2 linked regions of the Homo sapiens genome follow. The protein of the gene in region 2 purifies or fractionates together with the protein of the main gene of each other region. This does not show direct contact. Each region holds a gene or a part of one and is shown on either strand. Other genes may lie near its edges.

Region 1 (7,027 bases), on a different chromosome or scaffold from region 2:
GAGGTTTGCAGAAGAAAGCAGCGGTCTAACCTGTGGTAGCCTGTGACTCTGACATTAACACCAGAGCGGTGGGTCTCAAAGTGTGGTTCTCAGACAAGCTGTGGCAGCCTCACTTGAAGACTTGTTGCAGATACAAATTCCCAGGCCCACACTAGACCCTCTGGAGCAGAAGCTCTGGGGTTGAGGCCCGCAATCTGCGCTCCCATGCCCTCCAGGCGATTCCAGCACAGGCTGAGGTTTGAGAAGGGTGCTGTGAAAGGGGCAGGGAAGCCCCATTATATAATGTTTCCAGCAAGGCAGCCTCACGTTGCTTCACCGAAGTCACTCAAAGAAGCCTCTGCCCCTCCTGCTTTTCCAAGAGTCGTGTCATTTCAAGACTTCCGCACTGGCTGTAGAGAGTGGAGACAGCCAGGCTCCGAGCCCGACCCCAACGGCTTCCATGTTTCCTCGATAGAATGTCTGTGACTACCAAGAAGATACCCATATAGTGATGGTTTATTTTATTGAAAAATACACTAGTAATATTGAGACAGGTATCTTTTAGGCCATCTGGCTGATAATCAATATAGAGCTACTGATGACCATACTGGCTCACATTTGCCTTGTCCATCACTGTTCTTGGATCCCTGAGAACCACGTACTCGATAACCTTAGAGAAAAGCCCCGGCTGTGGTTTTCAACATGCTTTCTCATCCATTATCTCAGTTCACCCTTCTCGCAGATCTCCAGAGGAAAAGGGCAGCAGCAGAGCGATCTGAGGCCCCCCGAAAGGGACGAAGCTGCGGCTCTGGACTCCAGGCCCCTGCCAGAACAGCTCTGCGGAACGGGAGGGAGGAGGAAGCCTCGAGACAGACAGGGCTTGACTGCACCCTGAGGCCCAGGAGGCATGGGGACAGAGAGTGGGGAAAGCAGCGATCCCGCCCCCGTTCTGAAGGGAAGAGAATAACCTCTGGCAATTTTTACCTTCTAGAATCTGGTGGACCCTGGAGTCCCGCACGTACTGCTGAACAGCGTAATCCTTCAGGTAGCCGTAGCCCCCGTGCATCTGCAAGGCCTGGTTGCAGATCTGCAGGGAGACAGGGACTAGACGTCTTGGACTCTGGGAAGACTGTGGAGCAAGCAGCTTCCCTTCCTACCCCAGCCCACGATCTGGCAGCCCGCCATAAACCCATGAAAGAACCACAAACAGCCAAGCTCAAAGAGGGCCTCCACATTCTGTATGGTTAGAGACAAGGGAAGTTCACCTACTAAACTTGTCAGTTCCCCCCAGACAGGCGACTCAAAGCCCTCTGCCCCTCTCCCTTATTACCTGCCAGGCAGAAGCTGCCCACAGCCACCCTGGCTGGGATGATAAAAAGCTATGGTTCCCCCTAGTGGCAATGCAGCCTGACAATGTAAACATGGCAGAGTGCTAAATTGGGGCTGCTGTGAACCTTCCAAAGGTGGTTTCTCGCCTAGAACACAACCAAACAACAGTGACATAATGAAGTGTATAATGGCATGCAGCAGGCCTAAAAGCCAGCGATGAGAGCTCCCACATAGGCCGCTCATGAGTTCATTTATATCCTTAAGCTTAAGGTGATCCTTGTGGGATTCCAGGAGGGCTGGGTTCCAAATCTGACTCATGTCTCTCAAGACCCCTGGGCCTAGCAGCTGTTCCCTGTCCATCCCAGGAGAGCCAGAGGAATCACTTACGGCAAAGCATTCATCTGTAGCAAAGAGCTTGGCCATGGAGCACAAGGCCACTGCATCCTTCCTCTCCTCCTGCAGAGCCACTGCTGCATTGCGGACCATCAGCCGCGCGGCCACCAGCCTTGTTGCCATATCAGCCAGTGTGAATTGCAAGTACTGCAGCACAGGGAGCAGAGAACCAGACAAGACTGAGGGGCTTAGACCAGCACCTGGTGCAGGAGCCTCGGTAAGACATCTCGGAGGCGCCTTTTCTAAGTGATCCAAAGCTTCAAAGTCTCTTGCTTTTTCTATAGAGGAAATTTATTGCTTTTAAGTGCTAAGTCCACTTCACTCACCCGACACTTTAATATCGTTAAAGATATCCCAAGAAAAGATGGACAGAAATAAAGCACAAGCTCTGGCTAGGACAGTGGTGGGACTGACAGAGGAATTTCCTGGCTTCTCTCCTGGAAATGTGGGCCCTAGAGCAGGTCCCGGGCTGCAAATAGTGCAAAGCCATGTGGAGGCAAGGCAGAGGTTACCTGGTTACTGGCCAGAGGCTCTCCAAACTGCTTCCGGACATTGAGGTGGTCTCGGGTGAGGATGACAGAGGCGTGGGCAGCCCCCAGGGAGCAGGAAGCTAGAGGGGAAGAGCGCCGACGTTCCAACCAAGCTGGAAAACAGCAGTGCCTGTCCCGGACCGCTACCTCCCTGCCACACCCCTGCGTATCTCACCAATATTGATCCTCCCTCCGTTCAGTCCTCTCACGGCAATGAGGAAGCCCTGCCCCTCGCTCCCAATTCTGTTGGCCACAGGGACAGCACAGTCTTCGAAGATCACAGCTCGTGTTGGCTGGGAGTTCCACCCCACCTGGCAAAAATCAGGGACTGCGTGGTTGCCCAACAATCCAGCAGGTAGGGCGGCCTTCCCTGGGGACGGGAGCCTGTGAGGTATGGGTTTCAGCACCCAAGACTTAGACCCACAAGAACTTAAAATGAGGAAAAAGAAAAAGTTCAGGTTTAAAGGCCTGTCAGCACTCAGAAAGATACCTGTTTCAGCTAAACATTTTCTAACTTATTAAGAGAATCTACTAATGTCTACTCTACCTGACTAACCTACAAACACTTCTCACAACTTCTTTTAGGATTGTGACACCAACTGCCCCCAATTTCAGTGCCTCTAATTGAAAACCACAAACTATCTACAATCTCCCAGTTCCTCTCTGGCTCTGAAAATAGACTGCCTTTACATCATTTCCTTGCTCTCTTTTGTTGATAGGATAAACTCCATTTCTAAGCCTTTTACTGAAGGTCTTCCTGCCCAGGAGTTAGCATGGGCTTCACACACAGTAGAAGCCTAGGAAATGGTTGCTGTGTTACCAAAGAGAAGGGGATGCTAAAATGCATAATGCCTTACAGTTACAGAGGATCAGGAAGGATCCTGTAGGAAAATACAGAAACCCGAGGAGCTGTGAGAAAGAGGTACACTTAGGGGTCATTTCATTACCTGCCTTCTCTCACAAAGTCCCCCCATAACAGTACAAACTAGAGAGAGATGACTGCTTTGAGCATCTGGTCTAAAAAATCTGAATGGGTCTTGAGCCCTTATTACCAATTACGGTTACATGATCACAAGTCTCCTGTTCATGCCCTGGCCATGGCGGCTCTTAATCCTAGAAGTATCTTACTTTTCAAATTACTTACAGTACCTAAGTGTCCTTCTTGGGTTGCTGAAATACCCACAATCATCTCCAATGAGTTTTACTTTATTTTTAATCAAAGAAGCAAAAGGGACCACACGCCTTCCATTACTGAGACTTGTGGCCAACACCAGGTCTTCTCTAAGCGTCTCTTCCTGGAGCAACAAAGTGCACCAACGTAAGCAGCTGGATAAGGAACACAGGCCAAAAGCAGAGGCAGGAGAGGTCAGAACACTCACAGGTGGCTTGAAGAATTTACTGGCAAACATTGTCACTTTCCCCAGAGGCCTAGTGTTTAATAATGCCCTGTTGTATTTCATATGCTCCTGTTGAAAATCCTAATAGAAGCAACTGCTTCAAAGGTAGGTTAGCAAGTATGCAAACCTGTTTTCTGAAATAGAGCAGGAGTTGGGCTGGCAGGTGGCAGAGTCTCATAACCTGAATTGTTTCCTGTCCAACAGCCACTCACCTTTTTCTCCTTCTTGCCAAAGCTGAGGCCAGGGGTCCCCTTCTCAACAACTATGCATGAGATGCCCTTGGGGCCTGGTCCTCCTGTTCGGCACATGACCACATAGATGTCTGACTCACCAGCACCACTGATGAAGGCCTGTGGGGGTAAAAGGGGTGCAAAAGGACCAGGGAATGCTTGAGTTCTCACAGCGTCTGGGAACACCACTGGGTCCTCCTGACAATAAGGTCCAATGGCACAGAGACTGACAATAAGGTCCAATGGCACAGAGACTGACAATAAGGTCCAATGGCACAGAGACTGACAATAAGGTCCAATGGCACAGAGACTGACAATAAGGTCCAATGGCACAGAGACTGACAATAAGGTCCAATGGCACAGAGACTGAGGTGAGGTAAAAGGTCGCTGCAGTGACTGCAGATCAGAGAGGCAGTCCAAGAGAGTATAAAAAGGATAGACAAAAGTCAACGAAATGATCTGGAATCAGATTAGGAGAGATACAAACAGTGAGAATAAAGAAAGAGAAATGGGTCAGAGGTTCTCTTCCCAACACATAAAAATCCTATGGGAGTATTAACCCGCGGATGTGAAGGAACCAGAGGATGTCAGGAGGAAGCTGGGAACAATCTCCAAAGTGCTCTGGGAGGACGCACGCTAGTACCTTGGAGCCATTGAGGATGTAATGATCTCCCTGTTTCTTAGCGGAGGTCAGAAGAGAGGCAGCATCACTCCCACTTCCTGAGGAGGGATCAAAAGGCAGCAGAGAGAAGGTGAGAAAGTCAGTGAGGTCGAGGGAGCCCAGCACAATTCTATCTTCTAGGAAATCTTCTCTAAACAGACCCTGCTCAGAGTGTGTCACTGCAAAACCCAAGTGGCCAAAGGAACTCTCTGTACTTGGTGGAAACTGCTCATACCAGTCAGGCCACTGCCTACCTCCCAACACACCAGATAGGCTTCTTGGTCCTTGTGACATCAGGTCACAGGACTCTATTACTCCTCAACCAAACAGCTAGATAAACAGTGGCTCGACATGTCAAGAGGCTGGAAGGAGTGCTCGGTAATGCCATCTGAGCAGGAAGCATCTCTCCCTGCTATATCTCAGTGCAGTGTGGCAAATTCACCTGGTTCAGTGAGGCAGTAGGAAGCAAACTTCTCCATGGTACAGAGCGGTGGGCAAAATTTGTGCCTCTGTTCCTCATTTCCGAAGCTATCAATCATCCAGGCACACATGCTGATAGGTACACCAAGAAGAAAAGACAATGACAGAAATAAAGATGGAAAAGAAAAAAAAATGGGGGAGAAGGGGAAAGAGAACAAAGGGCAGGGCAGTGGAGTAAAGCAGAAGAGTGGGAAGGGGAGAGTCACAATTGGGAAGACTCTTTAAAGGCAAACGGTGGATTAAAACATATTCCTGGAATAAGGACTACCCAGAGATAACCAGGCTGAGGTACTTCTCACCAGCACGTTTGTACTACTTCTAGTTAGGTTACACGAGCCTCTAAAAATCAGAGTTATATGTGCTTTCTATTAGTAGTTTCTATTACTTCCTCAAATCACTGGCAGTTCCATCTTTGGATTGAGGAAAAGGGTGAGAGGGGCCGGGTGCGGTGGCTCACATCTGTAATCCCAGCACTATGGGAGGCCGAGGCAGGCAGAACACAAGGTCAGGAGTTTGAGACCAGCCTGACTAACATGGTGAAACCCCATCTCTACTAAATATGAAAAAAAATTAGCCAGGTGTGGTGGCACGTGCCTGTAATCCCAGCTACTCAGGAGGCTGAGGCAGGAGAATCACTTGAACCGGGGAGACGGAGGTTGCAGTGAGCCGAGGTCATGCCACTGCACCCTAGCCTGGGCAACAGAGCGAGACTCTGTCTTAAAAATAAATAAATAAATAAAAGGGTGAGAGGACCCTGATCACTCTATTGGAGAAGTCTCCTGGTACCAGCTCAAAATAAGATTTCTGAGAAAGCTGGCTGACCTGATTCCCTAAGCAATACACAGGATGACAGAATCAAGTCCAACAGGCAGCAACAGACCTAGCGTGTACTTATTTTATTTATTTATTTTTTTTGAGATGGAGTCTCGCTCTGTCGCCCAGGCTGGAGTGCAGTGGTCCATCTCGGCTCACTGCAAGCTCCGCCTCCCGGGTTCACACCATCCTCCTGCCTCAGCCTCCCGAGTAGCTGGGACTACAGGCGCCAGCCACCACACCCGGCTAATTTTTTGTATTTTTAGCAGGGACGGGGTTTCACCACGTTGGCCAGGCTGGTCTCAAACTCCTGACCTCGTGATCTGCCTGCCTTGGCCTCCCAAAGTGCTGGGATTACAGGCACGAGCCACTGCGCCCGGCCCCTAGAGTGTACTTTTAAGTCCAGTTCCTTGAGGACACTCAGCTTCAAAAGATCAATCTTTTTCCTACGAATCTGAACTCTCACAGTCAGCCCGAGTGAGCACTTCATTGTGCCTTCCAAGCTTGGGCACTCACTTGTGGATGCTTATATAGGCTGTGGTGCTGGTGCAGCCTGTAGCCAAGGCTTCAAAAATGACAGAGGTATCAAGACGTGACAGCCCAGACCCGCCCACATCTGTTTGTATGTAGACCCCTCCGAAGCCTAGCTGGGCTGCCTTCCGCATCACATCCACTGGGAACAGCTCCTATGTACAAAAGAGAGCAGGGTGATCAGCAGCTGATTCAGAGACGGCCTTCCTTTTAGAGGGCACAGTGAGGGATTAGGAGGCTTGCACATGCGACAGCGTATGAATTCTCTTAATATGCCTGTTTGTCATCTTACAGTGGTTATCAGTTAACATGGGTCCTGTAAAAACTTGTTCTGGCATTAAGAAGTTTCTTTTTATTATCTATAGAACTGCCTTAGTTTTATATCCAAATCTTTATTCAACTAACAAAAAAAAAGTTATGTACAAGATGATCAGGATGCCTTCTAGGAAAAATCATCCACTACCGGTATTCTCACTTGCAGTAAGAGTTGGTAAGTGGAGGAGACATTTAACAATTACATTATCAGGAGACAAAGATAAAGGTCTGCCTGAGACATCTGTTGTTAGAACGTCTAAGCACAAGAAAAACGCCTACCTTCTGGTCCCACTCTGCCATATTTGGAGCCATCTCTCGGGCAGCAAAGTCAAAGGCCACTTTTTGAAATTCTTTCTGCTCTTCATTAAG
Region 2 (7,027 bases):
CATAAGTAAAGTGAGTGACTGGACTGCCCCAGCTTCTGAAATCGAAATTAGAAAATGTTGATAGAAGTATATAAAAATATTATCCAGTATTCACTGGTTGGAAATATTGAAATTAAATATTTTCAGATATTTCAAGTTACTCTTTGATATAAGCAGATATGTTTAGTGAACAGGACTTTTAATGAATATAGACTTCATGAGTCACTTTTTTCTCTCCTTCTACCTTTAACTCTAGAAAAAGCAATTTTGAATCTGACAGCAAGGCTGGCAATGGGATGCAAAAAGAGCAGTAATTTTTATTTGATAATTGTTAGAAGAGATCTAGAGTTTATCATTTAGCACTAATCACAGCGCTAAGAGATATTAAAATAAAATAAATAGATATTTTGAGATTGCATTATTAAACCCCAAAAGCTAAGAAAACATTCTAGAAATAGATAAAGCATTTCATTCTACCCTTGGAATTCTTCACTTGGAATAGGTAATCTGTTTGATTTTATTCTGCCGAACAGATTGATGACATCTAACTTGGAACAGTCTATGTAGGATAATAATAATTTCACTTCCATGATTTGGAGTTCTTGCTAATTAGGTTGTAAATTGTCTGCTTAGGCTACTCTGTAATCTTGCCTGTAGTGTCTAACTTCTTTTATGATAATGTGAAGAAAGAGGGGAAAATCACTCCAAAGACATTAAATCTTCCTCAAATAATAGTCACAAAGTTGTAACCATCATTTGGTTACCATTACAATTTAGCATATACCTGTGTGTTTAGTGTGTATGGATACACACATATATGTTCCAGCTATACTAGTTTGTCCTTTAATTTGGTAAGCAGAAAAGATTATAAAGAAAAAAATTAGACAAATCCACACACATTGGGCTTCAGAGAGGCTAAGCCATCTGTTCATCAGACTGACATAAATTGCAATGACCAAGGCATGCCAGGAGAGTTGCTCATCTACATTATAAGGCAGGGCAAACTCAGAGAACCCTAATCCAAGTGCCCTACAAATCTGCAAATCACATCCATTAGGAAGTAAAGCATTAAGAGAAAACCTATTTTGGCATACAGTATTTTAAAAACATTTAAAAGCATTGTTCACAAGCAAGGACTTAAAGATACATACCTATATGTATTTCTACATGTATATATATATTTGATATATATAAAGTCTATATTTGATTAGGATGATTTCTGAGATGTGTGTGTGTGTGCGTGTGTGTGTGTGTGTGTGTGTATTCAGGACGATATGAGATGAGATCTCAGAAATCATCCTGGTGAAGTAATCAGACTTTTTAATTTAATGGCTGAAGAGACCTTAAATATTAGCAATGTAATTTTCCATTACTGATGGTAGCATCAATACTTCTTTAGGGAAAAACCTAAAGAAGGATAAAGTCAGTATGTTTGTGCTCCCTTCATCCCATGTCACGTGTTTGAGGAAATCGGGACGGCCGCGGGGTTGTGCAGGGTACTGCTCATTCCACGAAGCCTTTATCCCACATCAAGGTTAAAACTTCCACGCATTTCCATTGGCTGAATGACTGCATACATTAATGCCATTCAGAACAGCTTTAACTTGCACAGCTGCCTTCAGAATCCTGTGACTAAGCTTCTAAATTGGCCTGGAAGGCAAATTCACAGAGGAGTTGCCTTATCTCTGCACCACTTACAGTCTTCAATCCCCCCTCCATCCTTCCATTATCATCATCACAGGCAGCTGAGGTTTCTCCTTCAAAATCAAAAGCCCTTGGAGAATAGTCCTGCTTAGAGCTATGGGTCGCTGAAAATGCATGATATGGCATGTCTCTCTCATTTACATTTTGATTAAGTGAAAGCCTCTTAATTTGGGTCATTATCGATACATAAATCTGTAGAGAAAATGAACATGCATTTGTAATGTAACCAACATTACATGATTTATTGTTCTTATAATGTGTAAATACAGAAAGGATAAAAACCAGAGTCCAGCTCTCAGATGCCCTGGAAATGAAGCACCACTAGGGGACTGACGGGGTGCACCCACATGCTTTGAGCTCTGAGTGAATTGGTGCAGGCTCGGTGCTCACCTCTCATAATCACTTGCACTGAACTAGGTCTCCGATTTTAAAAATCACCATTCATAAATCTGTCTACTCTATACGACTGACCTTTCTGTGGAGCGTTTGTGAGTGGTAAAATAAAAGGCTCGAAATGGGTTTCCATACCTGATTGTGGACTTTGTTTGGGGATTTTGGCTACCACTTGAGGGCTGGAGGTGGAGTGCGTTCGTTGGTTGGCAGAGCCATGGATGCTGCTGGGGATGGCTGCGGAGACGTTCTTGCGGGGCTTCATATCCTGCAGCCACATGGGCGAGGCTTCGAAGGCCTGCATTCTGCGGGCATGGCTGTTGGCATTGACTTTCAGATAGGCCTGGGCCTTGTGTTCCTGAAGCTCCCCGTAGTTGGCATCAGTCACCCTGCACTCATATAAGCCTTCATCCTTTTTCCTCACTTTGGAAATCTGAAGCTTGTGGGAGATGTCATTGCCTTGGACTTTCACTGTCTGAAAAATTGCAGGTAAAAAAAACAATAAAGTGCTACATCAAATGATTTTGTTCCATTTTTTACCCTGAGCTTGCTAATATTGGAAAGTTAAAGGGTCTTAATGGCCCCATAGCCATAGTGAAGGAGCTTTTTATTTCCTTAACGTCACATCTGAAGGCCTTGGCTATCCTATTCCACCAACCACTGCACTTGCAGACTCAGGAGATAATTAGTTCAATGCAGCCAGTGCCAGATTCTGTCAGCCACGTGCCCCCCATTGTCTACATGCCAGTAGCAGCTCCGTCATTTTTCCATCATGGGATTGGCCTCTGCCTGCTTAACTCAGTTCAATGAAGCACAAACCAATAAGGCCAACTCTATAGGTGAAACAACCTCTTTTCTTCCCTGTGGGCTATAAACTAAGCCCCTCAACTCTGAGACATCACAAAAATATTTTGTTGGTCATGAGTTTGAGTGAGAATGCACTTGTATCCCCACACTGGGATGACTACTAAAGGTGCTATTAATGAACTTGGATATTAATATTTTTCTTCTTAAATTTTAGATGCAGTCTTGCCTCTAGTCATAGGGTGGCATGGCTTGGGGTACAGCTTCATATCACCTGAAGTCTTGTTGCTCAAAGTATGTATCCCATGCCATTATAGGGACTTTATACTACAGGGACTTGGGATGCCATCGATAAAACACTGGCTTGATTTTCAAAATTGAAATTGGCTTATTTATTTCTTCTAATAAGTTTTATTCCAGATTAATAGCAAGATCATATATCTGATATATATATTAGATATATGATTTTATATTATATATCCTATATTATATATATAAGCATCTTTATCAGAACAGTTAGGTTTAATACATAATCATATGTTCTTCATAACTGAGACAATGATAGGGTTCATAAGACATTTGGGATTCAAGAATTTGGTTCATTTTGAAAGATACAGAAAAGAAATGAAGGAGGCCGAAAGTTATTTTTTCTGCTAATGGCCACTACACTTTCAAACGGCCATAAATTACTAGGAAAACCTGAGAAGCACTCATCTGCTTTTACATATAGAGGTATATATACAAATAATTTCCAACATTTGAACCCTATGGGTTTATGTGTATATAAAATTACATATAAATATACTAATACTATAAAAATGAAGTGAATACTTCCACATTTATTCTGGGTTAAATCTCCTAACAAAGTTTGAGGTAGCTAGAGTATTTATATTATTATCCCATTTTATAGTTGAGTAAACTGAGGCTTGGGGTGTTTGGGTCAGTGATTTTCAACACTGAGTGTACATTAGAATCACCTGGGGTGCTATTAAAAATACTGGCATGTGGAGTAATGCAGAAATATTAAGTCTGCATCTCTGGAAGGTGGAGCTTATATCATCAGTATTTTATAACAACTCTCCTGGGAATTCAAAGTTAATAACTAGTGGTTGAGAAAATATGTTCAAGGTCACACAGTGGGTAAACAGGGAACAAACTACTTTCTGCCTCAGTTTGTGTCTAAAACTCTCTTCTACTCATTAACTTTTATGCATTATTGGCATAGGTAATACTATCAACAGTTGTGTGTGTAATCATGTTTCTCAATGTATGCATCAGGGGTCAGGATGTATGAAGACTATTTTTGTTACTGGCCTTTAGATGATAGGGGGACGGGTGAAGGGTGAAGGAAGAATAGTCACCAAGCAATCTATCTAGTTATATATGTATGTGAAAAATAAAATAATTAAGAAAAAACTAGATTTTACCAATAAAGCTTTTCTAATATTGTAGGAAAACAACAGTTTCTGTGATATAAGAATAATTGAAGTATTCTAAAAAGTCAGTAATTTTATGAGTTTTAAATCAGAGTTTATGGTTGATATTTCATCTTTGTCATTTTTTCTTCCATGTTGAGATTACACATTTAGATCACAGAACTAGATTCTGTGTACAATATATTTGTACATTTTTAGTTATGATGTAACTCCAATCTTCTACCACTTTACGCTATTGTAAGAGCCTTAAAATACATTTTCTTTTAAAATGTAGGTCATTGGGATTTTAGATTTCTAAAAACAAATAATAACAATATGTTTATGCTTAACAGATTTCCTCCTTTTGTATTACATACCTATTTCGTTTCTATTTAAAAAATGAAGCAGTATTATTAATATTAACTGATGCTATGCGGCTCATTTGAGGTATAGTAAAAAAATAAGACTTTCACTTTTTAAATTTTACACACACTTATTAAAAGTAATAAGCAAGAGAGTGGAACTATAAGTTTACATTTTCAATAGGTCAAGCTCCTATAATAATGGTTTTACATTTATATTGGCTTTTGGCATTATATTTATATATTCTTAATAACAGCACTGGAAATACATTCCATGCATTAAAGTGACATTCAAAATTTAGTTGCTTAATTTCATCACAATTTCAGTATCCTGTTGGATGCTTTATATTTTTCTCCCTAAAAATATTTTCCTATGTTACTGTTTTACTTTCTACTAAAATATAATTGTTTCCATAATTTTGAATAGATATTAGCAATGTATTTACTCTTACTGTTAGGTAAGTTACAAAAAGCAAGGAAAGAAAGTGTCACACAACCTCTCTGGATAGCAAACGATTCTCTAGAATGTTTAGACATTTACGTGACTAAAATATGTAATTTTATTTAGGGACTCTAAATGTGCTTCCATTTGTATGTATCTAATGAGGCAAGCAAGGGGCACCCGGCTGTCCGGCTGTCCTGCAGCGCTGGCAAGCCGCCTTCTCGGGGACAGGGAAGGGCTGTGCGTCCCGAGCCTGGGCCCGCGGCCCTTGGCGCGCCCCGCACTCACGCTGATCTTGGTCCCGTCGCTGTCCGGGTCTCTGTCGGGCAAGAGCTCCACCTGCGGGCAAGGAGCGAACGCTCAGTCCCGCGCCAGGCCCGCCCGACCACCCGCTCCCACGCGAGCATAGCCTTCGCGGCTCCGGGCAGGGCCGTCAGGGTGACCTGGGGACAGGGGAGCGACCAGGGGCGTGGCCACCCCTGTCCAGGCCCAGACCGCACCGCCCCCACGCTGTCCCTGGCATACCCCACGCTGTCCCTGGCATACCCCACGCCGTCCCCGCGCTTTCCCCGGGGCTGTCCCGGGGCTGTCCCGGCGCTGTCCCGGCGCTGTCCCTGCCGCGCGGATGCTGCGCTCTGGAGGCGGGGCCGGGAGCCGCCGGGTCTTTTTCGCGGGTTGACCCGTGCGGACGCGCGCCCGGAGGTGGGTGGGCGGGCGGGCAGGCGGGGGGGCGCCAGGGGTGAGGCGGGCGGGCGCCAGGGGTGGGGCGGCCGGCGTGAGTGAAGGTGAAGTGCTCCGGGACGAATTTTCGCGCCTTTGTTCCGGCCACCATCCCGCCTGCCGTCCCGCCCCGCGCTCCTGGCCCCAGATTCTCTTGCTGGCTCGCAGGGGCGCCGCCTCTCGCTCAACTAGGTCTCCCTCGCCCGGACCCCCTTCCCCTCTCCCCTCCTCCCGCTATTTTCCTTTTCCTCATCTCCTCCTTTCTCCCTCTCCTTCCCCACCTCACCACCCTCTCTCCTGTCTCTTCCCAAGTCACCCTCCGTCCCCTCCACACTCCCCATTCCCCTACTTCCTTCTCTCCTCGCTTCCTCTCTTCTCTCCTTTTCCTTCCCTTCTCCACTCTCCTTCTCTCCTCTCCCTGCCTCTTCTCTACTCCTCTCTCCCTCTCTTCCTTTCCCTCCCTCTCCCTTCCCTCTCCCTCCGTCTCTCCTTTTCCTCTCCTTCCCTCTCTCCCTTCTGTGCCCTCTCTCCCCCATGTCTCTCCTGCTCCTTCTCTTCCTCCCCCCTTCCCCCCTCATTCTCTCTCCTCTCCCACCCCTTCCCCCTCATTCTCTCTGCTCTCCCACCCCCTTCCCCCCTCTTACCTCTCTCCCTCTCTCCCCATTCTTTCTCCCTCTACCCTTCTCCTTCTCTGCTTCCCACTCCAATTCTCCCTCTCTTCCTTCCCCCTCCCCTTCTCTCTGTCCCTCTCGCCCCCTCCCTCCTTTTCCCCTACCCTCTCTCCTTCTCTTCTCCTTTCTCTCTCCCTGCCCTCTCTTTCCCTTCCCTCTCTCCCTTTTTCCCCTTCCCTCTCTCTCTTTCCCTTCCCTCTCTCCCTTTTTCCCCCTTCCCTCTCTCTTTCCCCTTCACTGTCTCTTCCCGTCTCCCCCTTCCCTCTTTCCCAGCCCCTTCCCCCTCCCCGTCCCTCTCTCCCTCTCTCCCCCTTCTTTCTCCCTCTCCCCCTCTTCTTCTCCCCTCCCCACTCCAATTCTCCCTTCCCTCCTTCCCTTCTCTCTGTCCCTCTCCTCACTCCCTCTCTCCCTCTTTTCCCCTTCCCTCTCTCCTTCTCTTCTACCTTCTTTCTCCCTCCCTTCTCTTTCCCTTCCGTCTCTCCCCTTTTTCCCCCTTCCCTCTCTCCGTCTCTTTCTCCTTCTCTGTGCCTCTCCCGGTCT

The links.
Region 1: the proteins of VSTM2A (region 2) and ACAD8 purify together in Homo sapiens (affinity purification with mass spectrometry; 3 studies listed by BioGRID and IntAct, with this or other methods). This does not show direct contact.

What each region holds. Positions count from the first base shown.
Region 1 is NC_000011.10:134,256,559-134,263,585, reverse strand, and holds part of ACAD8 (isobutyryl-CoA dehydrogenase, mitochondrial), read right to left. Parts: coding exon 6,938-7,027; intron 6,499-6,937; coding exon 6,329-6,498; intron 5,072-6,328; coding exon 4,962-5,071; intron 4,579-4,961; coding exon 4,502-4,578; intron 3,979-4,501; coding exon 3,841-3,978; intron 3,558-3,840; coding exon of another isoform or gene 3,513-3,557; exon of another isoform or gene 3,422-3,512; intron 2,543-3,421; coding exon 2,407-2,542; intron 2,312-2,406; coding exon 2,214-2,311; intron 1,849-2,213; coding exon 1,696-1,848; intron 1,455-1,695; exon of another isoform or gene 1,310-1,454; intron 1,067-1,309; coding exon 964-1,066; intron 817-963; coding exon of another isoform or gene 707-816; exon of another isoform or gene 486-706; intron 251-485; coding exon of another isoform or gene 90-250; exon of another isoform or gene 1-89.
Region 2 is NC_000007.14:54,545,355-54,552,381, reverse strand, and holds part of VSTM2A (V-set and transmembrane domain-containing protein 2A isoform 2 precursor), read right to left. Parts: intron 6,222-7,027; exon of another isoform or gene 6,166-6,221; intron 5,436-6,165; coding exon 5,385-5,435; intron 2,549-5,384; coding exon 2,212-2,548; coding exon of another isoform or gene 2,111-2,211; exon of another isoform or gene 1-2,110. UniProt on the Homo sapiens protein: Plays a role in the regulation of the early stage of white and brown preadipocyte cell differentiation. Promotes adipogenic commitment of preadipocytes by increasing gene expression of the transcription factor PPARG in a BMP4-dependent signaling pathway.